Linked DNA regions of Homo sapiens: region 2 is linked to region 1. The links come from fine-mapping of genetic effects on gene expression. A gene starts in region 1. The other region holds a variant in brackets. All regions are shown on one strand. Distances are between the middles of the regions.

Region 1 (16,975 bases):
AGATAGGAAGCCAGAATTTGCTCATATTGACCATAACACACTAACCTTCCTAACCCCCACCAGGATTTGAACTCCCTCCCTTTCCTGGCTCCTCTTTCAGGGTTCTATGTGGCTCATTCTCACTCCTAACACTGTTACCCTGATTTGGTCTTAGTAACAGAACACCAGTGCAAGCTGGTTAGGCGTGGTCTTCTTTCCATGTGGACGCTCTCTTAGCTGTGTCCCCACACACCTGGGCAATGGGCCCCAGGTAAACAGAATTGGCTCCAGCCAGCCTGCTTCCAGAAAAGGGCAATCCAGCCTCTCTGGATCATGGCTCCTGGGCTGGTTTTTCTCTAGGGAAGGGTGTCAGTGTGGGGACTATATCTATCACTCTCTAGCTGAACTGAGTTTAAAGTCTTGCTCAGGTTTTTGAGATAAAAGGGAATCTTCTTCTCAACTGGGAAGAACAGGTGCCCCTCTCCACAGACCCTTAGTAAAAGATACTCTGCTAAATAATCTATTGAAACATGAGTGTGACCGGCCCACATTCTCCTTAGTCTTGCTGCCTCTGTACATAAGCAAAGCAAAATAGAAAGATTGTAGTTTGATGTGTATTGCTACCTGTGCAAGGAAACACTGTTTCAGTATTAAACTGGGGAGCAGAAAAGTTTATGGCAAATGCATACTGTGGATGCCCTCCCCGCCAAGACCCCCAATTATCTTGCCCCTGACAAGAATCTCATAGCTTCAAGAATGGAACTACACTGCTCTACAAGATTTGAAAAAGATTTTAGCTCTGGGGGACATTGATTCTCTTCCACTTCTAATTTCTATGTCTCTAATGATCCAGATGAAAGACTAATTGAGGTCTGGTTGGAATGCTATTAAAGTTATTTGGTGGTGCTACAATTTATACTCATCTTTAAGTTCTTTTTAATTATATGGAGCTTTCAAAGCAAGGCTTGAACTATGGAGGTAAAAATAGAGAGCTATGAAACTCTCTTTTTTAATTCTTCTTTGTTCCTCTCAGCTTTTTTTGGGACGGTCCAGCCTCAAACTCCTAGGCTCAAGGAATCCTCCCACCTTGGCCTGCTGACTAGCTGGGACTACTGACATCCTTTCCCTTCTTTCCAAAGCAAAGTCACCTCCAGGCACCAAGCCTTTCTCTCTGAGCCTATTTGCCACCCACATGCACGTTATTTGGAAGAGAAACATTTGTACACAGGCCTCTTTGGTTAGTGCCTTGAGTAGGACTATCAAGGTATCTGGGGCTAAAAGGCCTTGTCCCCATCTAAGAAAGACAGGTTCTGCCTCTGCCAGTCACAGCAGTTGGGAACACAGCTGCTCCTGAACTTTTTTGGTTTTGTTCTGTTTTTAAGTATCTGGTCTCTTCCTAGCCTAATTCCAGAGGTTTTGTTCCACTGTGGAGCAATATCTACTGTTCAAAGGCTCCAGAATCATATCCCATGTCCTCAGGGAATTCCCTTAGTTCCTAAGACCTAGCTTTGGGGTCTGGTTGGCTGAAAGACCAAGCAAGAAGAGACACCAGTTGTTCAACAATTCCCAACAACTCTCTTCCCCCCACCCCCTCCATCCCCGAGAAGAGAAGACCCTTACCTGGCTCCACCTGGCTGAGAGTGCTGCGAGCATCCGTGGAATCGGCTACATCCCCACTCATCTTGATATCTGCAGGGAAAACACAACTGATTTTAATAACAGGTCACAATTTTTCTTGCTATGACATATGTGGCTTTAACTAAATAACAAAGATGAATGTGTAATTACAACAACCATCAGACTTTCAAATTCCTGATTCCCGAACATACAACCATTAGAATATTCATAAGCTTGAGGGCACGGATCCCCTCCTCCCATGCTCGCCTCCTCTCCTTGCCTTTCTCTTCCCCTTTCCCCGGTGCCACTGCAGGGTCTCTCACCTTTTGCATCATTCATGGCCACTTGCTTCTATCACCAGGACTCAGTTGGTAAAAATTTAACAAGGGGGTGGAGGGGACACTTCCCATTTCCAACACTCGTTTCCTTTGGGATCTGAGGAATTTATTTTATTTTTAAATAGTGAAAGAATTATCCCTCCCCGCCTGCCTCCCCAGCTCTGTTTCCCTTAATAACCCCATCCTGGAAGGTAAGAGTGCCCTTAAACCAAGGCTTGCCCTTCTCACCTTTCTTCCCAGGTCCTGCCTGGGTTCTCTGTCTGGTCTCAGAGGTCAGCCCACAGTCTGGGGATCAAGTCCTAGCTCCTGTGTTGTCCTCCTTGGAGATCCTGTCCTTTGGGGATCCTTACCTTCTCTCCTACTCCTTCAACTGGCTCAGTGAGAAAGGGATGGCAGCGGGTCAGTGCCCCACAGAAAGAGAATACCTACACCAGGCCCCTGGCTCAGCCCCCAAGTCCTGCTGGTCCAGCCTCTCTGCCCTGCTTCATTTCAATAAATTAAACATTTACCCTTAACAGACAGCTGCCACCACCTATGTGGGAGGCCCCTAAGTCTCCTCTTGGGGTCAGCAGGGGGAAGAAGAGAGGCAACTTTGAACCAACTCACTCTCTCTCTGCTCCTCTCCTTATTAAACCACCCAAAGACTGAAGCCTTAAAGACAGAAGAATATTTATTCAAATCATGTTGACCCCCACACCCCCCCTTCTCTGGGGCAGCACTTTAACTCTTTCAAACCAGATAAAGTCTTGGTGAGCCAATTTGCGTACTCAGCTCCCCAGCCAATCCCAGTCAAGCAGGCAGTCTTAATTTGCATCAGGTAATCAGGCAGTTGGCAGTCCGGATGCCCAGGTCTGGAGATGATCAGGATGAGGAAAAAGGGTAGACCTGTGCCCCAGGGAAAGAGGGGAGAAAACCTACTTTTTCATGTGTGTGAGGACTAACGTGTGTGGCTCCGGCCGAGGTGTACACCTCTGGAGTGTAGCAGCTTCGATGCCAAACAAGACATAGATGGGGGATCCAGAGATTTAGAGGCTAGAATACCCCAGAAATAGGGGAGAAAGTCAGGAGTCACTGTGGTTTAAGGAGTTTTCAAGACCAGCCAAATTGAGGGAAGACGCCAAGGTAAACACTTAGAGCTCTATGGAACCCTCCCCAGACAAATCTACACTGCACTTTGTGGTCGGTCACAGAGCTCTGAGGAAGACCTGCAACCTTACCCCACCCCCTCCCCTCCTAGTGCACAGCGTTTAGGGAGGCATTTCTTGAGCCTAACCTCAATCCGTCCTGCTGCAGTCTCAAACTCTCTATAGTTTGCCATGCATGAATATGCAGAATAACTACTATGGACCGCCCAGACACATTTGCAAAGGGCTTCTGCTGCCACTGGCCTTCTGTTCCAATGGAGAAACGGGCTCCCCTCTCCCACCCATTAAGTACTATCCCCCCTGGAGCTGGGCATTGCCTAACGCAGATCTGCTCAGCTCATACTTCACCATGGGGATTCTTCAACAGTGCTGAGAAGAGGCCCTGAGTCAGAGACTGCTGGAAAGGTGCACAGGAAGTTCTCCCCCACTGGTGGTTTCAATTTGCTTCATCAGCACCAGGATTCAGAGCATGGGATTTGGCATCAGACAAACCTGGATTAATCTCAATGCCATCACTAACTAGCTAGGGGACCCTAGCCACATATTCGGATGTGAATTTTCTCACCTAAAAATGAGAATAATGATATACACTTCCCAGGGTTTTTGTGAGGATTAAATGAAATACTGAATGAAAACTGCCAGGAAAGGAGTTCCAGGCACAAAGTAAGCACCTAATAAATGAACTAATTAAACAGACACTTAGGCTTAGATGCTAGTCCGCTTCCCTTCCTGCCTTCTTCTCATGCCCCTCCATTAACCCCTTGCCCCATTATAAGGAATAGCTTTGGTTTTCTGTCTCAGCACCATTGTAATTTGTCCTTTATCTGGGAAACCATTAGGATTCTCCAAATTCTGACTTCACAGAAAAAGTGTTCATGAGGACAGGAAAAAGTTAAGAGGCAGTGACGCTGGGATGATGACCAGAGTCTCTGAATCAACTCATTTCAAACTCCTGAAATTTAAGAAGGTAATTCTTTAGCTAAACTGTAATCGCATGCCTAGAACCCAAATTCTCCTCCAACACCCATTCTCCACATCACCTTCATCAAATACACACAGAAGCTCTCATTCATCCTTCAAGTTAGCCTGACATTTAGTCTTAATCATGTCTAAAAATAACTTTCAAAGGCATCAACCCCCTCCCCTCCTCATCTGCCATGTTGTCTACTCATTTGATGTATCCATTATGGGATCAACAAGGTGCCACTTCAGGATTGGAGGGGCAGGGTGAGATAACCTATCAAGCCTCTTCTTGAGTCCCATAGGATGCTAAGACACTGAGAACCTGTTCCTGTTGGGTAGGAGGCTGAGGCTGATGGGTGGGACGAGCTTTTGGGTCTCAGCCTAAAAATGGGCCAACACCGAAACTCCCTGAGACACTGTAACCCTTCACCTGTCGGACAGCACTTGCCAGGGGTGAGTGAGAGAGGTGTGGGGTGGGGCCAGGCTCCTCTGTGTTATCTCAGCCAGACACTGAGTAGGCTCCTTGCCATCACTCCCTTCCCTGGGGAGGCTCAGCTGCTCTGTGAAAGAGCCCAGACACCAGCTGCAGACCCTTGGCTGCCCCACTCAGCACCATCACACCCTGAAGTTAGCGTTGGCTTGACCAGGAGTGGGCCCTCCTTAGACATCTGTGAACCCCAGGGAAGAAAGCTCGAGAGGAAGCACTCCCCACAGGCTGCAGGCTGAGGGTCCTGGACCTCCTGGGACCAGGCTACTCTGGGAAAGCAGAAGCCACAGCCCTCTCTCCTAGTGTCCATCTTCATGTTCTTGGAAGGACGGGAGCTCCCTCTGGCTCCTCCCGCACATACCTGCTGATGGCGGCACTTCCACTGGGAGACTTCAAAGGACCCACCGGCCCCACTTCTGAGCTAGCCAAGGCTCCAACTCTCCGCCAGAGGAGACTTCTCTCATTTCTTCTCAGTCCCATCATCAGGCCTTCCAACCCAAATGCTATTCCTGAGCTCCAATTGGCACCCGTCTGTGAGACTCAGCCCCCCTTTCCCAACCTTGGTGGGGAAAAGCTCACAGTGAGGAGAAGGGCAGAGAAAGAGACACCTGGGGCAAACCAGGTGTGCCCCCGCCCGCTGGCTTCCCACTGTTTTCCTTTGTCTCTTATCTGCCTCCCTAGCTGGCTGTCTCGGGTCTACTTCTCTGCCTGTTTTTAGTCAGGGAGCAGGGAGCCCCTCCTTGCTGCAGAGCCCCTGTGTCTGGTGACCCTCTGCCTGCTCAGGTCTTTGTGCTTCCAGGTGAGAGATGCTCTATAAAGTACAAGGTGCGAAGGCTCCAGGCAGACCTGAATCATGGCTCGTACCCAGGTTATCAGAGCAAGACAATGGGGCTAACTCCAGCTGGCCTCAGTGCGAGTGGAGCCCTTGGAGTGGGCGACCCGGGAGCAAGCCTATGCTCTAGTTTGTGTGCTCCTGTTCCTCCTCCTTCCCCCATCCAAACTCCTCCAGTAAGTCAATTAAGGAGGAGACCCCAAGGACCCAGCCCTGGGAATTCACAGGAGAAGTACTATTTATCAAGATCAGTAGGATACAGGATTACCTTGGCGGGGGAAAATGGGACTCAAAAGAGACCACATTTCCAAAAGAGGATCCTGGACTAAGGGACCCTAGAGAGGGACCCATAATGAGATATTCCATAGAGGGAAGAGCGATCCTCCTTCACAGACCCCACAGCAGGGTGCGCACTGGAAGACCCTACAAAGAAGATCTTGAACAGTAAAGGCCACCAGGAGGACCCAGCAAAGAGAGCCCTCTAATAGAGACCCAGTTAGAGAGATGGGACAGAAAGTCCTAAACTCAGAGACCTCTGGAGGTGCCACTGAAGGGGAACCCTCAGACACTACAGAGGGGCCAAGACCCAGAAACTGCACAGGGAGGCCAGGTAGCCCTGAGGGGGGAATGGGCTGGGGAGGGAGCAGGCAAATGGAGAGAGATGAATTGGGCAATCTACCCCCAGGTACATGGAGATCCCGCCCTGAGGAATCACCCCACCTGGGGTTTAGCTCAGTCTCCCCCCATGTGTCGGGAATACCTGCTCACAGGGACAGGGTGGAGAAGGTGTCTGGGCTTCTGAGAAGCATCAGCCAGGAGCTCACTCCTGGGGAAGGCATAGAGGCCAAGCCCTATGCCTCAACCTCATCCTCTGGTGTTCTCTGCTCTCTGCTATATCCTCTGAGGCCCCAGGCTGCCTCCCTGCTGGGTCCCAACTGTCCCACCCCCTCCCACTTCCACAGAATGGGAGCCTCCAGTAGACAAGGAGGTGGAAAACCCCCAGGAAGTCTGTGATCTTGGTGCTAAAAAACTTCCCATCCACTGCTAAGCCCACCTTTCTGAAGAGACTTGCTCCCATTCAAACCCTGGCCTTCTCTGCGGGCAGTGAAGGGGAGAGCACCTACCCGGGGATCTGCCCCAGGTATGCCCAGTCTAGAAACAGACTTTCCTCAGACTCTGGATGACACCCAGTTGGATGGCTTCTTCCGCCTCACCTAGCCTTTCTGGCACGTCCTGGAGAGCCACTCAGTGCCAACATCTCACTGCCAGTCTGCCTCTCACTCAGCCCTGCCAGGAAACAGCATCTGGGGAACTGGGCACTCCAGGTCCCCTCCCTCCGGGCACTCACTGACGCTTGTTTTCAGGCTGGGTAGGCCTCAGGCCTGCTCTGCTTCTTGGGGTGGGTCTGGAGCATTGCCTCCTCCCTACTCTCCCAGAAAGGAGACCAGGTAACAACATTCCCATCAACAGCCCCGAAATCCTAAAGAAAGATCACTGGGTCCTGCCCACTTTGAGAGTAAGTTGCTAGGTTAGAAATGGCCAGGTCAGGTACCGCTTTCTTCACTTGTTCTTTGCTCAGGCCCTGTGACCTCCAGAAGGCCCACCCTAACAGGAAGCCCCAAGCCAAGCCCAACCTGGCTGCCTGGCAGCTCCTGCCTTAGCCCAGCTGTGGAAGGAGGAACAGCAAGGTGAATGGAGGGGCTGGGTTCCCTCCATGCCCACCTCTCATTCATTCATTCAGGGAAGCCTGACTCCCGGCAAAGCATTTGCATCTCCTAGGTTTCCACCCCTTAGGGAAGGAAGGCATGGGACATGGAACCCAGAGGATGTGTCTGTCACCATCCCTTCTCAAACACATGGGGGCATGGCCCCTGCCCCAGGGGCACCTCTGTAATTGCCCCACCTCAGCCACTTCTCCTAAGCCCCCCAACCACCTAAATGTCCGCTTTGCCTCCATTTCACACATATGCCCGGACACCAGCACACAGCATGTGGACATACACATTTCCCTCACTTATGCACTCCCAGGTCCACACCCCTGGCTGAGTGAGTGAACCACCCATCCCTGCAACCTCCTGAGACTATGACAGTTCAGTACACCCACGTCCCATACAACTGCCACTCCCCAGACCGGGGGCTTCGAAGCCCTCCCGCCCTTCACCAGCCCCCACCCTCATTCTTTTCCAGGGTTTCTTATCCCAGATCCCCTCCCTTTAGTCCCCAAATACTGACCGGCACCCACCCCAGGACAACCCGCTATCCACACCGCCCTCTCCTGGCCGCTGGGAAACAAGCCCCCCTCCCTAACCAGAACGTTGTCCCTCTCCTTCACCCCTGCCCACGCGCAGTGACACCTGTCAGAGCTCATTCCCTCCGCCCCTCACCTGTGTGCATGGACTCCAGATTCACCATCCTGCCCCAGGCGGGGCCAAAGCCAGCGCCCCCCCAGGCCCCTCGCCTCTGCCCCAGCCGGGGCCCCTGCGAAGCCAGGGTCTCCTTCCTCCAGTTCCCGGCCGCCGCCGCCGCGGGAGCCGCTGCCGGAGCCGTCGCCGCCACTGTCGCGCGCTCCGCTGCTCCGGCCCGGGCAACACTCGGCGCCGCCAGGATTGCCACACTCCCCAGGTGAGCACGCGGCGCGGGGCGGGGGCCGCCGGCCACGCCCCCTGGCAGGAGCCCCGCGCCTGGCCCCAGGCCCATGCAAAGCAGTGATTTGCATACATGGAGCTGGGGACCTGGGGAGGGGGCCGGGGGTGCTGCCGGGGCGGGTCTCGATCCCGCGGAACACCTGCCTGCTCCAACCCAGCCTGGCAGCACCTCCTCACCGCGCCCGGAGTGGCGCCAACTCCTGGTCCTGCTCGCCCTTTTTAGGAAGCCCTGGCGGGTTCTCCAGCCTGAGCCCGAGCTTCCTTCTGGACAGATCGCGAAGTGTAAGCGCTGCAAGGAGTTGGAGTGTTTGGAGAAGTCGCGGGGGTCTGCTGGAAAGAATTCAGTTTTGGAATCTCGCCTCCCAACCGCTTACCAGCAGTGTGGCTGGGACAAGGTTCTTCACCTCCCTGAGCTCATTTAACTCACCTGTAAAACAGGACAGGTGCTAATCGGGTTCCCTATTGGGCTGAGCAGGTGACCAAGCTCACCTAGCCCCCATGGCATCCTCACAGCATTGTGGGATTTAGACGGGGTGCAGTTTATTATTAGCAGAGTTTCCAGGTGCACACAACTGCTTCCTGCTTGCCCCTCCAGTCTCCCGCCCCAGGTCCCAGGTTGCTGTGAGGCTCTACGAGATGATGGATGTGGAAGTTACCAGTGCCCAGGCTTTTGGTGACAGCCACCTTCCAGAGCGGGGAAGCGGCTTGCTCAAAGGTGCACACTTCCCTAGTGACAGAGCCTGGCTGGAATCAGGTCTCTGGACTCCCACTCCAGTGCTCTTTGCAGCACCCATCATAGGCTCACCCCTTTCTCTTCGTCTCTTCAAGTCCCAGTAAGTGGTCTGTCACCACAGGATGGCCTGCATGGAAGCCCAGAAAGCTGTGTGCAGACAGGAGGGCAGGGCCTCGCTTTCCTTCCCAGACAGGACTCCTCATGAACATGTCTTCTCCTTAGTCCCATGGGCTACTTTCTGAGCACAGAACAGGTTTTGGGCTTTCCTGCCTCTACACCTTGTTTACAGTGTCCTTTCCCCCTGGCACGCCCATCCCACCGTGCACTCCAGTCATGCCCACGATAACACCCAGCATTTCGTGTGCCTTCACTGTGTATCAAGCACTGGGGTGACCAACACTTGAAAGGCATCTTTCGTGCCTTTAGTTCTTGTTTAGTCCTCAAAACCTGTACATTGTACTATGATTATTGCCATTTTATAGATGGGGAAAATGAGGCTTAGAGAGTTTAAGTTCCGTGTTCTTTTTTTTTTTTTTTTTTTTTTTTTTTTAGACAGAGTCTTGCTCTGTTGCCAGGCTGGAGTGCAGTGGTGCAATCTCGGCTCACTGCAACCTCCACCTCCTGGGTTCAAGCGATTCTCCTCAGCCTCCTGAGTGGCTGAGACTATAAGCACGTGCCACTACACCCAGCTAATTTTTGTGTTTTTAGGAGAGACAGGGTTTCACCACGTTGCCAGGATGGTCTCGATCTCCTGACCTCGTGATCCACCCGCCTCAGCCTCCCAAAGTGCTGGGATGACATGTGTGAGCCACCACGCCCAGCCTAAGTTCCATGTTCTTAACAGCCTTCGTGGCAGGTTCTGAGGGCCTTTTCTTAGCTTACCCCCTGGTTGGTAACTGATCAATTGCTTCATTCTAGTGCCAGCACCCCAGCACCTAGAACAGGGCTGGGCACACAACAGGTATCAGAAAGTGTTCTGTGGGTGCTACAGTGGCCCCAGAGGAACAGGAAGCACTTAATTGCTTCTTCAGGTCCACATACACCACCCTCCCCAGTCACATGGACCTCCCTTCCCCACGCTCCCGAAAAGAAGGGAGGAGAGAAACTTCTTCTTGCTTCTTTTTCTTTTTCTTTTTTGAGATGGAGTTTCTACCTTGTTGCCCAGGCTGGAGTGCAATGGCATCATCTCGGCTCACGGCAATCTCCGCCTCCCAGGTTCAAGCGATTCTCCTGCCTCAGCCTCCCGAGTAGCTGGGATTACAGGCATGCGCCACCATGCCCGGCTAATTTTGTATTTTTAGTAGAGACGGGGTTTCTCCATGTTGGTCAGGCTGGTCTCAAACTCCTGACCTCAGGTGATCTGCCTGCCTCGGCCTCCCAAAGAGCTGGGATTACAGGTGTGAGCCACCGTCCCCTGCACTTTTTCTTGTTTCTTCTGGGTGAGGAAAGAGACCAGCAAGGGCTTATTGGAGGCCCAAGGGGGTCCCTCTCAGGACACTCTCAGCCTCTGTTCCTTCCTTCCCTCCTATTCAACACTCCCCCAACTCCCATCCCCTTCTGGCCTTTTCTTCTCCTCCCCAACTTCAGGTTTGGCCCCTTCCCTGAAGTCCATTTCTTACCTACAACTGCACTCACCTACCACCATTCTGGAAAAATGCCTGCACACAGCTTATATACCCCTGTGTGCTTGTGATTTCCATATCTCTATTTGCATATTATTTGCATGGCCATGTGCACCGAGGGTCTCATTCTCCGACCACCTTATCTGGGGCCCGTTGCCCTTTTTCATGTGCAAAGTCACATTTCTTCTCTGGGCTTTAGTTTTCCAAAAGTCAGAGAGGCCCATATTTGATAATTTCAAAGGGCCTTCTGTCTCCAGCAGCCTAGGATTCTGGGGTTCTGGGGGGAATGGGGATATGGAGTTCTTGTGGGGATTGGGGTGGAAGCTGAGGCACAGATAGGACCTTGGAGGTTCACAGCTGGAGGCACAGCTTTGGGTTCCAAACTTGGAGTGTGGAGGTAGGAGGATGAACGGGGCAGAAGGGGCTGGGTGGGGAGAGGATAGCAGATACTCCCTCACATTCATTCATTTACTCATTCACTCAATGAATATAGATTGAGTGCTTCCTACGTGCCAAGAACTGTGCTCCATGCTGAACATACACCATCTGATTTTAGTCAGTGCCACTTTAGATGGAAGGTACAATTATTAGCCCTGCGTTACAGATGAGAAAACTGAGGTTCAGAGAAGTAAACGCAGCTAGTAGACTACAGAGTTGGTATTTAGACCCAGGGCTGCCAACCCCAAAGCCAGGATTTTAGTCCTGCCCTCCAGTTTCTGAATCTGAGCTTCCCCTTCTCTTATCAGATAACGAGGTAGAAAGAACCTAGATATCATTGAACCCTTCATTTGAGGGACCTGAGGCCCACAAGGAGGGGGACTTACCCCAGAAAACAGAACAAACATATGGCTCAGCAGAGACGTTTCTACTCTTCCCTGCTTCTCCCTCATGTGCCCTGAGGCTTAGAAGGCTGGGGTGCCCTCTAAGTCCCACCTGTGTATAGGGTTGAGGGGGAATGGTGAGCAATCTTTATTCCTTCTCTCTCAGACTTGCTCACTGATCATTTCAGTTAGATGAGCTAGAATGGGAACGTAGAGAACTCCTTTACCCCTTCCTCCTTTAGCAGTTCTTGGAGACTCCATGAAACCGGTTTTTTGAGCTCTGGGCTGGAGTGAGATAGAGAGGAAAATGTCAACCCCCCTGAGCCTGATACTCCCTGTCCCTGTTTAGCTTAGGAGAGGAAAAGCTGTGGGGAAGAGAGAGAGATAGGGGTTTGCCTGGAGGTTAGAAAGGAACAGAAGAAAGAAAGGGAAAAAGAAGCCAGGACAGGAAATTTCTGTGCCTTTGGACATCAAAAGAACTATATGTAAATGAAATGCAAATTAAATGCAAATCATCCCTCCCTCCCTCCCTTACCCCACCTCTCTCAACAGCTGGAGGACTTTTTTCAGAGTAGCAGAAGCCTTACTCCAGGATGCTGTGGTTTTGAAACTGTCATCAATTCTGACCCCTCCCCAGGTCCTCCGGGGTCTCCTGGAGTGACATCTAACCCCCTTGGCTGCACCTCTAGGGAGTCACTAGTGCCCCAGGCTTCATTTCTATTTGAACATATCATCAACTTCTTTTGTTTCAAGGACAGAAAGCTCTAAGAGTCAAGCCTCCTTTCCAGACACAGTGGGTGGAAATGGTGCACAGCCCTGGAGAGGGTACTGCGTGGAGTGGGCCCAAGCCCCATCCCCACCTCAGCAGGGAAAAGGGACCTTCTTGGCTGTAGACCCTGGGCTCACTCCCATTTCCTGTCCTGTCAGCTGGATTGAGTTGTCAGGGCTAGGAGAAGGGCGGAGAGTGAGGCATCCTGGAAGGCCACCAAGGAACAAGTCCCTTCTAGCCCTTTCCTTCTGCCAGATGGGCCATGGGGCCCAGAGCGTGGGGGTACAGGAGAGGGTCAGCTCCTTGCCTCAGGGTGATCAAAGAGAATGGATCCAAACTCAGATTCCCAATAAAAGCAGATGGGAGCAAGGGAGAGGCTAGGAAGGACTTCCAGGCCTGTTTTAAATCATATGTCAAGGTACATCTGAGGGCATCATTGCCGGGAGGCTTTTGGTGGAGGTGGGGTTCGTGTCAGGGTGACACAGTGAAAGGTGTCTTGGGAACCAGGATAAGGTAACTGTGACTGGCGAGGGGATGGGTAGAGGACACCAGAGTCAGGATACAGAGCTATTCTCTGCTCTGATGTCTCTAATGCTGAATACCCCCTGCCCTTGCCCAAGAGACATCTCCCCATACCCAGCCTTCACCCATGTCGGGGGGCAGTACACACACATTCATTGTCCATTTTGCACTTAAAAGTTCAGAATCATTGATAATAGCAACATATATTTAATTTAAAGACAACATAACAGCAACTCTGCTTCCAATCAATTTTTTTGACTTTGAGGCCGGCATTGGACCTGAGCTGGATCTTTCTAACTGCACCTTCGACAGAGCCCAGCCTCAGCCTCTGCCTCAGCCAGCCCTTTCCTGGCTGCCTGGACCCACCTCACCCCAGGTAACCTTCCCAATCCACTTACACGCTCAGGGCAAGTCTAGGCCCTGCGCGCCCTCTCGTGGTCACAGGGGCGTGTGACCCTGACTTTTGCACCTCTACCTGCAAGACCCTGGAGAGATCTTTTCACAGGAGTGCCCATCCATGGCTGGGGGATGCACAGGGGAGGGCCCCAGGTCTAGGCAAGATGGGGATGTTGAATTTTAGTTTCAGACTACCATTGGGTCTTCCAGTCCCTGCTCCCCATCAAAGACCAGACCTCAGCCCAGAACCCTAGTTGGAGTCAGCCAGCTTGGTTGTTTCTGCTCAGTCAACGCAGTGACAGGTGCTCCTGGCCCGTTGGGCTATCCGTCCTGTTGCTGGACATCTCTGCCAGTCAAAATGTCCTACCTCCTGTACTTCCCTTTGCAGCTGCAAAGGGCACTGATCCCCGTGGGATCAGCGTATAGACAAGGACTGAGTGTGAAGGCGCGAAAGCAGGAGCCACGAGGGTGGTGATATTCACATGGGAAGGACCTGGAATCTGCCCTGACTTCGGTGAAAATAGTTCAGCCATTTCAGTAACAGATGACTTGTGACACATATCCTAGCTGATTGCTGCATAGCCTTGAGTAGCGATTCCAAGGTTGGAAAGTGCTGGGGAGGAGGATGCTGGCAAAAAGGTGGTCTGTGAAGGAGCCGGGAGAAATAGGGCAGAGGTGGAGAGGGACCTGGTTTTGAGGTGTTTTTTTATTTTGTTCTTAAGATGAGAAAGAATGCGAACTCTCCAGGGCCACTGGGAAGGAAGCAGGAAAGGGAGCAATGCTAGAGGAAGAGGGGATCATTTCCCCCAGAGAGGGAGGTCCGGGAGAGTGGGGAGAAAAGACATGTCTCCATGAGGTCAGGAGGGGAACTGGGAAGGTGGGTGCCAGCGTAGGCCAGGGAGTGGTGAAGAGGCTTCTCCTCTCGAGGCTTCTGCTTTCTGTGATGTAGGAGGGGAGGGAGCTGCCTCTCATCCTGCCTCTCCCTGCTTAGGAATCAGGACCTTGTCACAGGAGCCAGGGCTGGTGAGATAGTTGCCCCCCAGGGGCATGTGGACACCACCCTTGTGACTGTCTTTCCCTGGCTCCACTGAGAGCTCCTGAGGTCCAGCCCTTCTCCATGGAGGTCTGCACTGAATACCCACCAAGTGAGCCTACACTTTCCACCCGCTTTTACCCTCTTCCCTTCTACCACTAACCTTCTAGGTCCCCAGCTGGGGCCACTGTGGTTATCAGTCAGGGTTTCTGCAGGAAAACAGAACCAACTTAACTCGGAGTGCCTCTAACAAAGGTGTTATTGACAGAGATGCCAGCAGGCTTAAGGGAACCAGCACCCAGAGAGGGGCTGCACAGAGAAGCGAGGGCAGAAGAGGCAACAGGAGGAGACAGTGGTATGGGAGCCCCGGAAGATCTGGAGCCTTGGAGGAATGAAGCCAGTGCCACATGTGTGGTGCTGAGGCAGCCAGCAGGGAACTGACACCCCACTGCTGTCCTGTGCTCCCACCTGCAGTGCTTCTCATCGGCTGAAGCCAGAGGGTGAGGAATCCCAGGTGAGGGCAGAGGAGGGTGGAGGGGAACAACCATCCCAGCTGTCACCTGGCTACAGCCAATAGCTGATACTGAGAATAAGCCCTGGAATGCTGTCATGTTTCTCACTGGTCAAACAGCGAACAGTTTATGACAATACCAAGCGATGGCAGGCATGATGATTCATTTTATGTGCCAATTTGGCCAGGCTCTCATACCCAGCTGTTTTGTCAAACATTAGCCTAGACGTTGCTGTGAAGGTATTTTATAGACGTGACTACCTTTATAATCAGTTGACTTTAAGTAAAAGATCACCCCTGTATTGCGGGTGGTCCTCATCCAATCAGTTGAAGGCCTAAAGAGCGAAAATGGAGGTTTCCTGAAGAAGACATTCTGCCTTAAGACTATAACACAAGAGTCCCGCCTGAGCTTCCAGCCTGCTGCCCTGCCCTACAAATTTCAGACTCCCGGCTGGCCACAACATTAAGTTTTGCCTCAGCTGCCAGACTGCTAGTTTGTTAGGATTTTGGGCTTGCCAGACCCCAAAATCCAGCAAGCTAATTCCTTAAAATAAATCTTTCTCTATGTGTGTATCTTACTGGTTCTGTTTCTCTGGAGAGCCCTGACTGATACCACAGGAATATGAGAGAACGGGAACTTTCAGACACTGCTAGTTGTGTGTAAACTGGAACGGCCCCAGCTGTAGGGTGATCTGACAGCATCTACAATGTTCACGCCTGTGACACAGACATTCCAGTTGCCTGTTTTTTCTTTTCTTTTTTGGAGATTGAGTCTCACTCCATCACCCAGGCTGAAGTGCAGTGGTGCGATCTTGGCTCACTGCAGCTTCCGCCTCCCGGATTCAAGCGATTCTCCTGCCTCAGCCTCTCAAGTAGCTGGGATTACAGGCGCCCATCACCACGCCGGCTAATTTTTGTATTTTTAGTAGAGAGGGGGTTTCGCCATGTTGGTCAGGCTGGTCTTGAACTTCTGACCTCAGGTGATCTGCCCGCCTCGGCTTCCCAAAGTGCTGGGATTAGAGTCAGTTGCCTGTTTTTTCTATTCCTGCCTACAACCTGGCTTGTAAGAGCAAGTCACAGTAAACAATTCGATTTTCCATCAGTAGCCAAATGGCCAATAGACCATTTGGGAGAATATTAGGCGATTAGACATGGAATGCCCGTGTTGGGGAAGACCTTGGAGATAACCCAGTGAGACCCTCTCTCTTATGGGATGTGTGTGACCCACACAAGGTCACACAGAGCTGGGCCCCAGCGGGTGCCCATGCTCCTCAGATACAATGCTGGCCTCGAGCCTTTGGTTCTTGAGAGTGGCACTTGCCCTCCTTTTTGCCGGAGTCCTTGTCCCCTCATCCACCAGAGCCAGGTCCAATAAAGACCCTGGGGTAGAGGTCCTCCAGCTGTGGCCCACAGTTCCCCCACTGAAGGCCTCCCTTGGCTAACAAGCCTGAAGGGAGAGATGCCTGAAGAAAACCCACAGGAAGTCCATAGTGAGGTCCAGCCCAGCCCGGGTGAGGTTGCCCAGGGAACCAGGCACAACTCATCCTCCCGGCTTGCAGCAGCACCAGTCAGGGCTGGGTTTCTGGCCTCCCCGAGGGTGCTTTGCTTACCCTGGCAAACGGAAATCAGGCAGTTCTTCCTGCCAATTCTGGTCCCAGGAATCTTTGGACACTGTCCCCACCACCCCCTGCCCACATGTTCAATGATTGCTACTACAGAGACTGGCCCAGCAGGTGCTCTACACTCCACACTCCTCCCCGTCCCACCGAAGCCTAGGTCCCCTCCTGTGGGTGAGCTGTGCTCTCGGAAGTTCTGGCTGGCCAACCTCATAAAGCACTTTGGGTTGGGAGGGGGTGTGGAGTAAGAAGGACAGGGGTTGGATCTCAGTTCTGTTCTAACAAGATGCCTGGACTTGAACTTGGGCTGGTCACACAATTTTATAAGGGAGCCACATCTATAAAATGTTACAGAGTCACTACAAGGAGCCAATGGCCAATTTATATGAAGGCACATTGTAAACCCTAAAGTCCGCAGAGAAATAAGTACTGATATTACCACTCCCAAGTGTTTTACACGGCCACAAAAGCCTCCTGCGATAGGGAAGTCTTATCTCAGTGTTTGCCAAACAGCTGACCACCTACATCTATTTCAACAAGCTCCTAAGTGATTCTGATGCACACTAAAATTTGCTTTTCAGCAAAGAAGTGACTGTCACGGCAGGATTTCAGGTGCTGTGACAGTGGGGCTAAGGCGGTTGGGCGAGTGCTTTGGAATGGTGGACTCGAGCCCTTGGATGTGGCCCTGTGGGAGGTGCCTACTTTGCAGAGTGTTAAGGTCAGCCCAAAGTCTCAGGGATTCTTCTCATCACCATCCCCTGAGACTAAGGAGCCCAAGGCAGCTGGTGTCTGTAGTGATGGTGTCCAGAGCCCCCTCACTGCAGGGGCCAGACAAGCTAGGAGGTGCTAGTCAAGGAAGGTCAGAAAAACACTCCAAGTCTTGAAAACATTGCTTTTTAAAAAAGCATTATTTTTGGTGACTTGGAAATCAGAAGGGAAAACATAC
Region 2 (10,629 bases), 65 kb before region 1:
CCCTTCTATTCCCTCGCCCTTCTTTATACTATATTCTATACAGCATCTCTTTGCTTATTTATTTACTGGATGCTCCCCTCTTCCCTGCAGCCACCACCTTCCCCTCCAAGCATCATGTCCCTCCAGTGCTTGGCAGACAGCTTGGTTCCTGGCCACTCACCAGCCGGGAGTTGTAGACAGGTGGTTTGATGGGTGTGGCCACAGGGCAGTTGATTCGCTTCTCCTTTTGGCGTCGGTTGCAGAACCAGACCCTCACCACCTCCTTCTCCATGGACAACTGCTCTGCAATCATGGAGATCTCCTCCGAGCTGGGTTTTGGGTTCTATAGGCACCGAAAGGACAGAGTATGGCCAAGAGAAGGGAATCAGGGGCAGGGAACAGAGGTCCCAAAGAAACAGGATACAACTATACATGGATCAAAAGCTTTAGAGTCAGACCTAGGATGAAATACTGGCTTTTTCACTTACTACGTGTCCTTACAAAACTTTCTTAACCTTTCTGAGCCTGTCTTGTCATCTATGAAATGAGAATAATCATGCCCACCACATAGGATTATTGTGAGAATTAAATGAGAAAATGTGTGTAAACTGTCAAGCACAGGGCCTGATACAAAGTAGGGTCTCCATAGATGTAGGCTGTCTTTCCTTCATTCATGAGTTCAGAGGAGAGAAGTCCATGGATGAGTTATGTGGGGCAGGTAGAGTCCCCAGAGCTGCTGCTCCCTTCTGTGTTCTTCCTTATTACCTGATGTCCTTCTCCCTTGTCATTTCTTTTTTTTTTTTTTTTTTTTTTTTTTTTTTTTTTTTTTGAGACGGAGTCTCGCTCTGTTGCCTAGGCTGGAGTGCAGTGGCGCGATCTCCGCTCACTGCAACCTGCGCCTCCCGGGTTCAAGCAATTCTCTCTGCTTCAGCCTCCTGAGTAGCCGGGATTACAGGCATACATCACCACGCCCAGCTAATTTTTGTACTTTAAGTAGAGATGGGGTTTCACCATGTTGGGCAGGCTGGTCTTGAACTCCTGACCTCAGGTGATCCACCTGCCTCGGCCTCCCAAAGTGCTGGGATTACAGGCATGAGTCACCATGCCTGGCCTGCCTTGTCATTTCTTCCTGTCCTCCTGTCTCAAAGCAGAAAATGAGAAAGCTAAAACATGTGGACCCATCAGGACTGTGGCATAGCAATACATGCTACACGGGCGCCACTCCCTTGTTCTGATCCTTCACACCTGGTCTCTAGCCCCGGCCACTTTCCCCTACTCCTACACCCTCCCTTAACCTTGCCACTCTAGAAAGCCTAAAAAGAAGGAAAAGCCAGTTCCTGTCATTCTGCTAGCTGGATATGGGCACCAAATCTTTGAGCTAAATGTGCGAGGAATCTGCTGGAGGGGCAGCAGTCCTGGAGGCCTGGGGCCTTTGGAGACGCGTGGTACCCATGGCGGCTCTGGAGGCTGGGATCTGAGGGAGCCTGGCTAGAGGCTGGCTAGGCCACATCTGTTTCTCCCTCTTCTCTTCCCCAGCCCACACGGGGCTCACAGCTTCCACATACTGGCTCAAAAACATGCTTTTGCTACAAGTTCCAAAAAACGTAGGTGTATAACACGATCACAAGTATCTAAATGTGCATAGAAAAGAAGGAGTAGAAGGAAATGAGGTCAGATGGCATTTGGCGATGGGCGTTTTTTTTCTTTCTACTTCCCTGCACTTAAATTGTTTACAATAAGCATTTATTACATTTATAATTTGAAAAATACAAAATGTACTGCATAGAAAATAGAGAACTTACATACAATCCCCTGACTTTGCTCCCTTTACCTCAACTGGATACGGAGATACACTGTGTTCTGGGACCCTATAGCCCATTCTTTAAATCTCCCAGTGAGAAAAACAAAGGGCCCTAAATAGATGTCAGGGCAAGAAGGGTCAGTGGAGGAGGAGGAGGTTCCTGGAACCTGAGATGGAGGGCAGCTTTGCACTCCAATACCTGGGCGCCTGGAGTGGGATAATGTGTTTTCTGATCGTGTCCCAGAGCAGGTGTGAGGTGCGGAGGGGCTGGTGCCAAGGGGCCTGGGCCGTGTCTGCTCTCCCTACCTGTGTGAGGTAGCCCACCCGTGCCCACCCGAAGGTGCTGCTCACATCTTGAAACCTCTTCTCCAGAGTCAGGCGGATGTTGGTCTCGATGCTGGTCCGTTTCTTTCTCTTCCTACCAAATACTTCACTGAGGCTGGGGTAGGAGCTGGGCGTGCTCACTGAGGGGTCTGACGGAGAGGACTCTGCAGGGACACGAAGGACCAGAGGAAGCTCAGAGAAGGGGATGAGTGGCCGGTGCCTTCATGGATCTGAGGTCCAACAACCCTTCCCGATGGGCTCTGCAGTGGCATTTTCAGGAGCAATCCCCTCCCCCAGCAGGGAGCCCAGAACAGACCAAGAATCCTATTTCTTTTCATTGCTCAGGGCAAAGGCCCTCCGTGGCCCTCCATTGTCCTCCATGGCCTTCTGTGGCCCTCCGTGACCCTCCATGGCCCTCTGTGGCCCCCACAGCAGTGTCTCCAGTGTTTGGGGTCACAGCTGAGGGATGCTCATGCATCGGTGACACATGTGGGTGTAAGGGGGCACTGGCAGGGCTCCTGTGAGTAATGCTCGTGAGGCTGCTGTTTACAGATATGCCTGGATGTGAATACTGAGTGAAATGTGAAATGAGATTTGCAGCCAAAAGCAATGGCACTTGGTGACAGACTGTTGGTGTTGGAGTCATTTTCCTGCCAGTGCAAATGTTTGAGCTAAGGCTGTAGGGGCCATAGGAGGGATATCCCTGAGGAAGGATTCAGGCATCTGATGGAGACTAGGAATGGTCACAGGGCCCTTCCCCAGAGATTCGAAGACCTTCGGATCATTTCGCTCATTTCAGTGCTTCCATAAAGGCTGTCTAAGGGACAGCCTGTAGGGGGAGCTTCCTGCCCCCTCCCATGCTTGCGTGTGGAGGCCCTTCCGTATGAGTAACAGCCCTGGCTGGCTGCCCCACCCTTTTCTCCCTCTCCAGTGTAACCACGAATCCATATGAATCGACTGAATAGAGCCCAGCCCTGGAGACTGGCTCACTCCCTCTCTCTGCCTAGGCCGGCAGTTCTCAACCGGGGGGGACTCTGCATCACCACCACTCCCCCTGGGACATTTGGCAATGTCTGGAGAGATTCTTGGCTGTTTCAACTGGGGGTGGATGCTACTGGCAACTAGTAGGTAGGGACCAGGGATGCTCAAAACATCCTGCAATGCATAGGCCAGTCCCTGGTAACAAGAATGACCTGGCCCAGGATGTCTATAGTGCCAAGGTTGAGAAGCCCCATCCTGTATGCTAGTCCCTGCTGCCAAATGTGAGGTCCCTTGGCTTACACGCTTGATCTCCTGGGTTGCCTCCCGGCCACCACCCCTCACTGAGTCCTCCTGCAAACCCCATTCCTGCTGTCAGGCTTTCCTGACCAGCATGGGTTGCAGTAAGTCCCTGTCTGCTGAAAACCTCCTCAAGAACTACCCAGGGAAAGACCCTGTGTCGTGCCTGTGGTCTCCCCCTCCCAGTGAGACCCTAGAGGCCCCACTGCCCTGTATCCCTGACTAGACTTATTCCAGACAGCAATCTGCATAAGTGTATCTGCTCTGCAGATCCAGACTTTGTTGCTGGCAAGCTGTCCTAAGATCTATGCTGGGTGGGATGGGGTAGGAATGGAATGGGGACAAATCCTGATGGACACAGACCTAAATCCACATCCTTCTGAGGGCTTCTCAGTAGTCGAGCTGACACTTTCATCTACACTTGCCTGTGTCCTGTGTCTTGTTTCTCCATCGGCTCCAGTCTCAGGAGAAGAAGGGGGTGTTAGGTATCAAACTCCCAAAAGCCCCAACACGACAAGTCACTGGCCCTTCCCTGCAGAGCCCTCTAGGGCCCCTGGCATCCGTGTTTGCGAGGCCTACCTGCATCATTCAGCCACTTCTCCAGCAGGGGCTTGAGCTTGCACATGTTCTTGAAGCTCAGGTTGAGGGCCTCAAATCGTGAGATGGTGGTCTGGCTGAAGTCGTTGCCATACAGCTTTCCCATCGCCAGCCCCACATCTCCCTAAGCGTGGGGACCGAGGGGGAGGAACATGAGAGGCAGCCTCCTCCTCTTGTTTGCCCACATCCTGCATGGTCCTAGCATCGATCACACAGCCAGCCTGAATCTTTGAGTGCTCACCCATGCTCGGCTCCTTTCCAAGTCTCCTCCCTCTAAGGTGAAGAATCGGTTTCTTTCTCTCCTTAGACTCTCAGTGGACCACGCCCACGTGCTCAGGAGAGCCAGCCCCTTTTCCACCTCTCATTCTCCTCCACCAGCAACGTCCTCAGTTTCCCTACCAATGGCAACTGTGCCCTATTCTCAGAGAACTCAGGGACATGATGAGGAGACCCCAAACACATCGAGCCTCTGGTCGCTCTTGAAACCTGCACTTGGGAAGCCCAGTCTCCAGCCGCTCGGCTAGACTTCTTCTATCTTTTCCCCTAAAACCAAACCTGTGTGAAGCCCAGCTTAATGCGCCTCTGCTTGAAGGTCTTGGCAAACTTCTCCAGCTCCTCGAGGTCACTGGGCTCATCGGCCCCTCCAGAGCTGGGTAGATGCTTGGGCACTGGGAGATGCTGGGATGCTTCCAGGTGGGGTTCTAAAGAGGATCCTGGCAGCCCAGGG[T/C]GCCCAAATGCCTGATAGGAAACACGCCAAGCAGATCCACCACGAAGATCAATAAATAACATTTTCTGATTTTTTTTTTTTTTTTTTTTTTTTTTTTTACTAATAGGCCCACTTAGAGGATGACAGATCCCTGGATACACCCTGGGTACATTGGAGTCTTATATTTTTCCAGTGGCATGGAAGTGGAAATTAAAGTTTCTATAAATGTATAGCAAATAACTGGAATATCTGGGTAGAAACATCAGGAGTGCAGGATAGGGAGGTGGCCTGAGTTTAGCCTGTGACTCACTTTTTGAGTCTTAGCAGGTTACTTCCTCCTTTCAGTTTTCTACCATAAAAGGAGCTAGCAGGGTTGTTTACAAAGATTCCAAAAACAAATCACAGAACTGGACAAAGAAAAGGTTGCTTGCTTTGTTTTTTTGTTTTTTGTTTTTTTCCATAAAGCAGGTAACTGAGGTGTTGAACAGGCATTAACTGAAGATAACAGGGGACATCCAATAACTCATGGCCTTCATAGAACTTTCCTAAAATGTCAAACTCTTGTGCCTCATTTTACTTTCTAAACCACCATTTTCTTTCATGAAAGTGTTTTGTTTTTAATCAAAGGTATTTTAATCAGTACCTTTATAAAATGCACCTTGATCACATTTGGGTTGCTAGGAGATATTCTTTCTTTCTCTCTTTTTCTTCTTCTTCTTCTTTTTTTTTTTGAATCAGGATCTCACTCTGTCACCCAGGCTAGAGTGTAGTGGCACAATCACTGCTCACTGCAGCGTCAACCTCCTGGGCTTAAGTCATTCTCCTGCCTCAGGCTCCTGAACAGCTGGGGCTACAGGCGTGTGCCACCACACCTGGCTAACTTTTGTTTTTTTAGAGACAGGGCTTCACCATGTTGCCCAAGCTGGTCTCAAACTCCTGGGCTCAAGTGATCTACCTGCTTTGGCCTCCCAAAGTGCTGGGACTACAAGTATGAGCCACCGTGCCCAGCCAAATATTATTTCTTGAGCTTATTTTCATAGGAAAACGTACCCTTAAACCTAGAACCATGCTGTGCCTATTTGGGGTCAGGAATGAATCCGATCTTAAGGACATCTATCATTCCACAAGGATAGAGTGGAATCTGGGCCTAGGGGTCCAGGCACTGTGGCCAGCTAGCTCAAAGGGCTAAATCCACCTCTTCTCTCCTTTTTGATTTACTTTTTGTAGACTAAACATTACTTCTTCTCCTCTGGGATATTTGGGTTTACCATTCAGATAGGTATCCTTATGATGAAGAAGGTAAAAGGACCTCTAGAGAGAAGTTTAGGAGTCTTTCCCCCAGTGAAGGGTCTTTTAGTCTGAAACCATCATGAATTTGGTCTTAGTTTGCAGGGAGAGGGTGTGTGAGGAGAGTGTGGCATAGACCAGACCCTCAGGACAAAGCCCCAGTCCTCTTTGAACCTTCCTTTTCATTAAATCATTTGTTCTTTCATTTGACAAAGACTTATGGGGCTCTCTGCTAGACCTTCTCCCTCCTCCTTTCATCTCCAATCCACTGGCAAACTGCACTGATTCAACTTCCCAAAGCATCTCCTCAATCATCCCCTCTTCTTATTGCCACAACTCTAAGCCAATCCTTTATGACCCCTCCCCTGGATGATCTTCATAATCTTCTATGTGGTCTCTCTGCTACCAGTCTCTCCATGCCAAAATATGATAAGAGATGAGAGTTGATCTTGAAGATTCTAAGATCTCTTCCAGCTGTAAGCCCATGGCTATGAGATTCTGGAGAGGGCAGCCAGGAGGAGGCGGAAGAGCAGCTTATGATGCTGGTGTCCCCATTTCAACCACTAGATGGCGAGCTTCCCCTCCAGGTACTTTTAGTGGCCTCAGCCCTCTCTGAAGGCCGGGCTCTTGGTGAGCCATGGGGATCTTAGCACAGAGATCTCTGCAGTCATTCCCAACCATTCTGCCCAACCATCTGTGCAGAGCCATCTCATGCAGCTGTGCAGGTTATTAACTGTACAGGGGCACCCAGATCAGGGGAGGAATGGCAGCTAAGATACAGCTCATGCTGCTGTCGCCAATCTGTCCACCTTGGCATGAGACTGCACCTGGCCAGAAGAGGTGCCTTTTTCCTAGTTGGAAAAAAGGTGCTGTGTGGAACCATGGCAGCTCTGCAAACAACCCCTCTCCCAGACCTCAGCCCACTGGCCTATATACGTGCCCACTGCAGGAGGCAATCTGGAATAGTGGCCCAGAGGTGAAAGACACTGGCTTTGTGGTCTGGGACATCAGGTCTGTAGTATTCTAGTCTCCCTCTTGGGGCTTGAGAGCACCTAGGTAGGGTTCGTGGCCATCTTGGTATGCCTGAGAAGTGAGCTGAGCCTGGCTCTCAGAGGAGCAATGCTGGGGCCTGTGCAGGGTTGGAGTTCAGTGCCTGGAGCATGAAGGAGGCTGGCCTGGGAGCTGGAATCTCTGGATTCTAACTGTGGCCCCACCAGTGACACTTGGTAAATTGTCCCCCCACTTGCTGTAGCTTGGATTTCCCCTGTGCCAATGGATAGTTCCCTGCTATCCCCTCTCCCCAGAGGGGTTAGTGCCCTGTTAAAGGGGTAGGGGGAAACCAGTGAGTTAAACTCAGTGAGAGCTGAGACATTCCTAGAGGAAACAGGAAGAATGGGGTTGTTTACCTGGGATGCCAGTCCCGGCCCAGTCTGTGGGAGGAGGAGACCGCTTTGTTGCTGTGGAAAGGGGAGGAGATTTGGCTGCAGACCTGGGTGAAAGGGGAGGGACAAAGGAACAGACAAATAAAATCCAGGCTATTTGAAACACATGTGCTACAACTTTGGCACCACGATCACTGTCCCCACCCCCTGCCACCTGATCAGGTCCCTCCACCCACCTCAAGTCCCATGGAGAGGCCCTCCTAGCACTGCCAGGCATTGCCACATACAGGTGGAGGCAAATCAGATACAGGGATAAACAGACATGTAAACAGCAGTCCCCAAACCAGTCCTTCCACCTGCCCGCCTGTCTGGAGAGGCGTAGAGGCTAAGGAGGGTCAAGACGATCTACTCTGGGATCTGATTACCAGAGCTGAAGAAAACCAAGAAGGGAAAGGATGCAGGGTGGCTGCTGAGAATTCAAGCTAGGGCTGAGGATTTTGGCTTTCCCTGCAGGAGAAGTAGCTGGGTTATGGCTACAGAGGCCCAATCAAATCTGCGAGGATGCCAGACCAAGCAGATACGACCATACGGCTCTAAAGGGCAGTGGGCCTTAGCCAGAGGCATGTGGCTGACCAGGACATTTTATACTTGGGAGAGAGGGCTGAGAGAGGAGGGAAAGTCCAGGGCTGAGCCTCTGGAAACTCCCTTGGGCAGTATGTATTATACCGGCTTCTCCATCCTCCCCAGGAAAACGGTACATGAGGGACTCTGCCTGGTTGGTGGCTCACTCTCCCAGCAGGAGTGGGGCCATCAAACCACCAAAGCAGACAATGGGGTTGGTCATCCCAATCGCTTGTCACTCAACAGCACTTTGGGGTCTCTGTTTTCCCTAGGCTGTTCTGGGTCACAATGTACATACAGCATCTGCTGATGTTGACCTTTATGCTCTTCAGTTTCAAAAAGTCAGGGCTTCATTGTTCATTATTAAAATACATAGGCAAGAAAGCTCTTACAAGGAATCCAGAACTGGGAGTTGAGAGGCTTGGGTACTAATGGCAATTCTGACATGGCGGTTGAAATGGATACAGCCTTTTCACATGCATTATTTCAAGTGACTCTCAATAATCTCATGAGGCAGAGCCTTGCTATTATCCCATTTTTTCAGAAGAGGAAATGGAAGCTCAGAGAGGTTAGGTAACTTTCCCCAAAACACACAGTTAGTAAGTGACTTTTTAAAGAAACCAGTAAATTTTTCTGACTCCAAATTTGGAAGTGTCTTTCCACCACTGCATCATACACTGACCTAGGTGGTTATAAGCCTGGGCCATTTTCATGTCGCTCTCCAGTCTTCTGAAAACAAATTAAACTGTTACCTTCCCTTTTCCATTCCAGGAGTATGATGTTTATTTTTTAACCAAAATAAACACTTAAAAATTCAAATAGGGTCTCATTCATCACCATAATATTCTGAGGTGCCTTGGAAACTAAGGATAGTGACTGTCATTTGTGCAGGTGCTAAGGGCGGAAGGCAGAGTTGCATTTTGTTTGGATTCTGGATTTCCAAAACCTCTACTTGGGATTTGTGCAACAGGAGAGAGTTTATACTTCCTCCATTATTTTTTTTTTTCAGAGACAGAGTTTTGCTCTGTCGCCCAGGCTGGAGGACAGTGGTGCAATCTTGGCTCACTGCAACCTCTGCCTCCCAGGTTCCGGTGATTTTCTTGCCTCAACCTCCTGAGTAGCTGGGATTACAGGCATGCACCACCACACCCGGCAAATTTTTGTATTTTTAGTGGAGACAGAGTTTTACCATGTTGGCCAGGCTGGTCTCGAACTTCTGGCCTCAAGTGATCCGTCCACCTCGGCCTCCCAAAGTGCTGGGATTACAGGCGTGAGCCACCGAGCCTGGCCAACCCTCCATCACTTTTGACCCTAGCTGATGGAGATGGGAGTGGGACAGGCAGCACACTGTGATGACCAAGAGTATGGGTCTCAGCTAAACGGTTCTGGAACTTCCCAGTAGGTCACCAGAGGCATAATAGAACTACCTACTTTACAAGGTTATTTTGAGGAATGTCAGAAAAATTACTCAGAAGAGCTCCTGGCACATCATGCTCAAGAAATGTTAGCTATTTATTAATAGTTCAATCTATTTGCTCTTGGCCAGGGAGAAGTTCTCTGCGAGTAACTTCCCTGCCAAAGAAAACCTGAACACCCTTTCTACAACCTGTGGGTGGCACTGCTGCTCTCTCCAAATAGAATCACAGCCAGGCTTCCAGGAAGCAAGTCTGAATCTGTGTCCAGGAGAGATTTCCAAGGAATTGGGACTTGTCTGTACTGCATTTCCCAGGGCGCTTCCCCTCCCTTGTACAGCATAGCTCTGCTCCACGCCTGCACCTTCCGTCTCCACTCACCACGAAATTGAGGAGGTGGACCAGACCACCCAACAGGAGGCTGGGAAGGGGAAGCAGAGAAGGAGACTAAGCCTGGAGGAGCATTGCCAGGGTCCCTTCCTCAGACCCTGGGGTGGATAAGTAGGTCTTAATAGCAGATGGGTGACTGACTGACGCATGCTCTCCAATTAGGCCCCCTCACCCAGCAAAAAACAGCAGCAACAGCAGCACTTGACTGGACTTGGTCTAGGTGGAAACCCCCAGGGTTCTTACCTTGCTGCCCAGGCTGGGTCTGAGATAGCAGGAACTGGGATACAGACTGTAAGTGGCCGGGAACCAGCACAAGCTGCTGGAGCGGATGGAGGGAAGCCATGTCCTACACACGGAGAGATACACATACACCACAGAATTTACAAGCTGGGGACATCAGCCCCATCTGCCTGCCACTCGTCCGTCCCAGGGGTCTCCAGACTCAGAGACTTTGCAGGCTGACCTTGGTTTATGCCACTGTGTATCCCCAGTGTCTAGCAAATAGTAGCTACTCCGTTAACACTGGTATTGTTACAGCTTCTGCCCTCAGCCTAGGAGTCCTTACTACATATTGTTACTTAACCCTTGCCTCCTGAGTTAATTTTTGTATGTGTCAGTCCTGTCTCCCAACTAGACTATAAAATGCCCTGAAGGCAAAGCCTGGGTATGACCCATCTCTCAAAGTTTATCCTAGAGATAACATGCAATCCCCAACTATCCAATTCTTTTTAAATCTCATGCCACCTGGTTATGCTAAAAGCCATGCCTCGGCTGTTTCCTGGGCCAGAATCTTTCCTGGAGGGTGTTGGGGTGGGAGTTGGGGGGTGGAGCAAACTATTCATTCTTAATAAA

Which allele goes with the higher level. Alleles are on the strand shown, and positions count from the first base shown. SD is a standard deviation of normalised expression in the study named.
For the expression in unexposed skin of the gene that starts at base 7,977 in region 1, C is the low allele of the variant in region 2 and T is the other (small effect, 0.24 SD a copy in GTEx).

What was found.
Region 2: its variant is fine-mapped to the expression of POU2F3 in unexposed skin (GTEx, PIP above 0.99).

What each region holds. Positions count from the first base shown.
Region 1 is chr11:120,231,142-120,248,116 of GRCh38, reverse strand. POU2F3 (POU class 2 homeobox 3) reads right to left here and starts at 7,977. Exons shown (of 13, transcript NM_014352.4): 1 at 7,746-7,977; 2 at 1,600-1,668. The coding sequence starts at 7,773. RefSeq lists a silencer at 12,773-12,995.
Region 2 is chr11:120,299,118-120,309,746 of GRCh38, reverse strand. POU2F3 (POU class 2 homeobox 3) reads right to left here. Exons shown (of 13, transcript NM_014352.4): 5 at 10,021-10,123; 6 at 7,379-7,461; 7 at 4,535-4,717; 8 at 3,962-4,103; 9 at 2,132-2,268; 10 at 161-322. Among named protein-coding and RNA genes, the nearest start is that of TLCD5, 21 kb to the left of the region's middle. RefSeq lists enhancers at 1,958-2,127, 2,025-2,194, 2,467-2,969, 3,534-4,051. The variant T/C (reference allele first, on the strand shown) is at 4,707.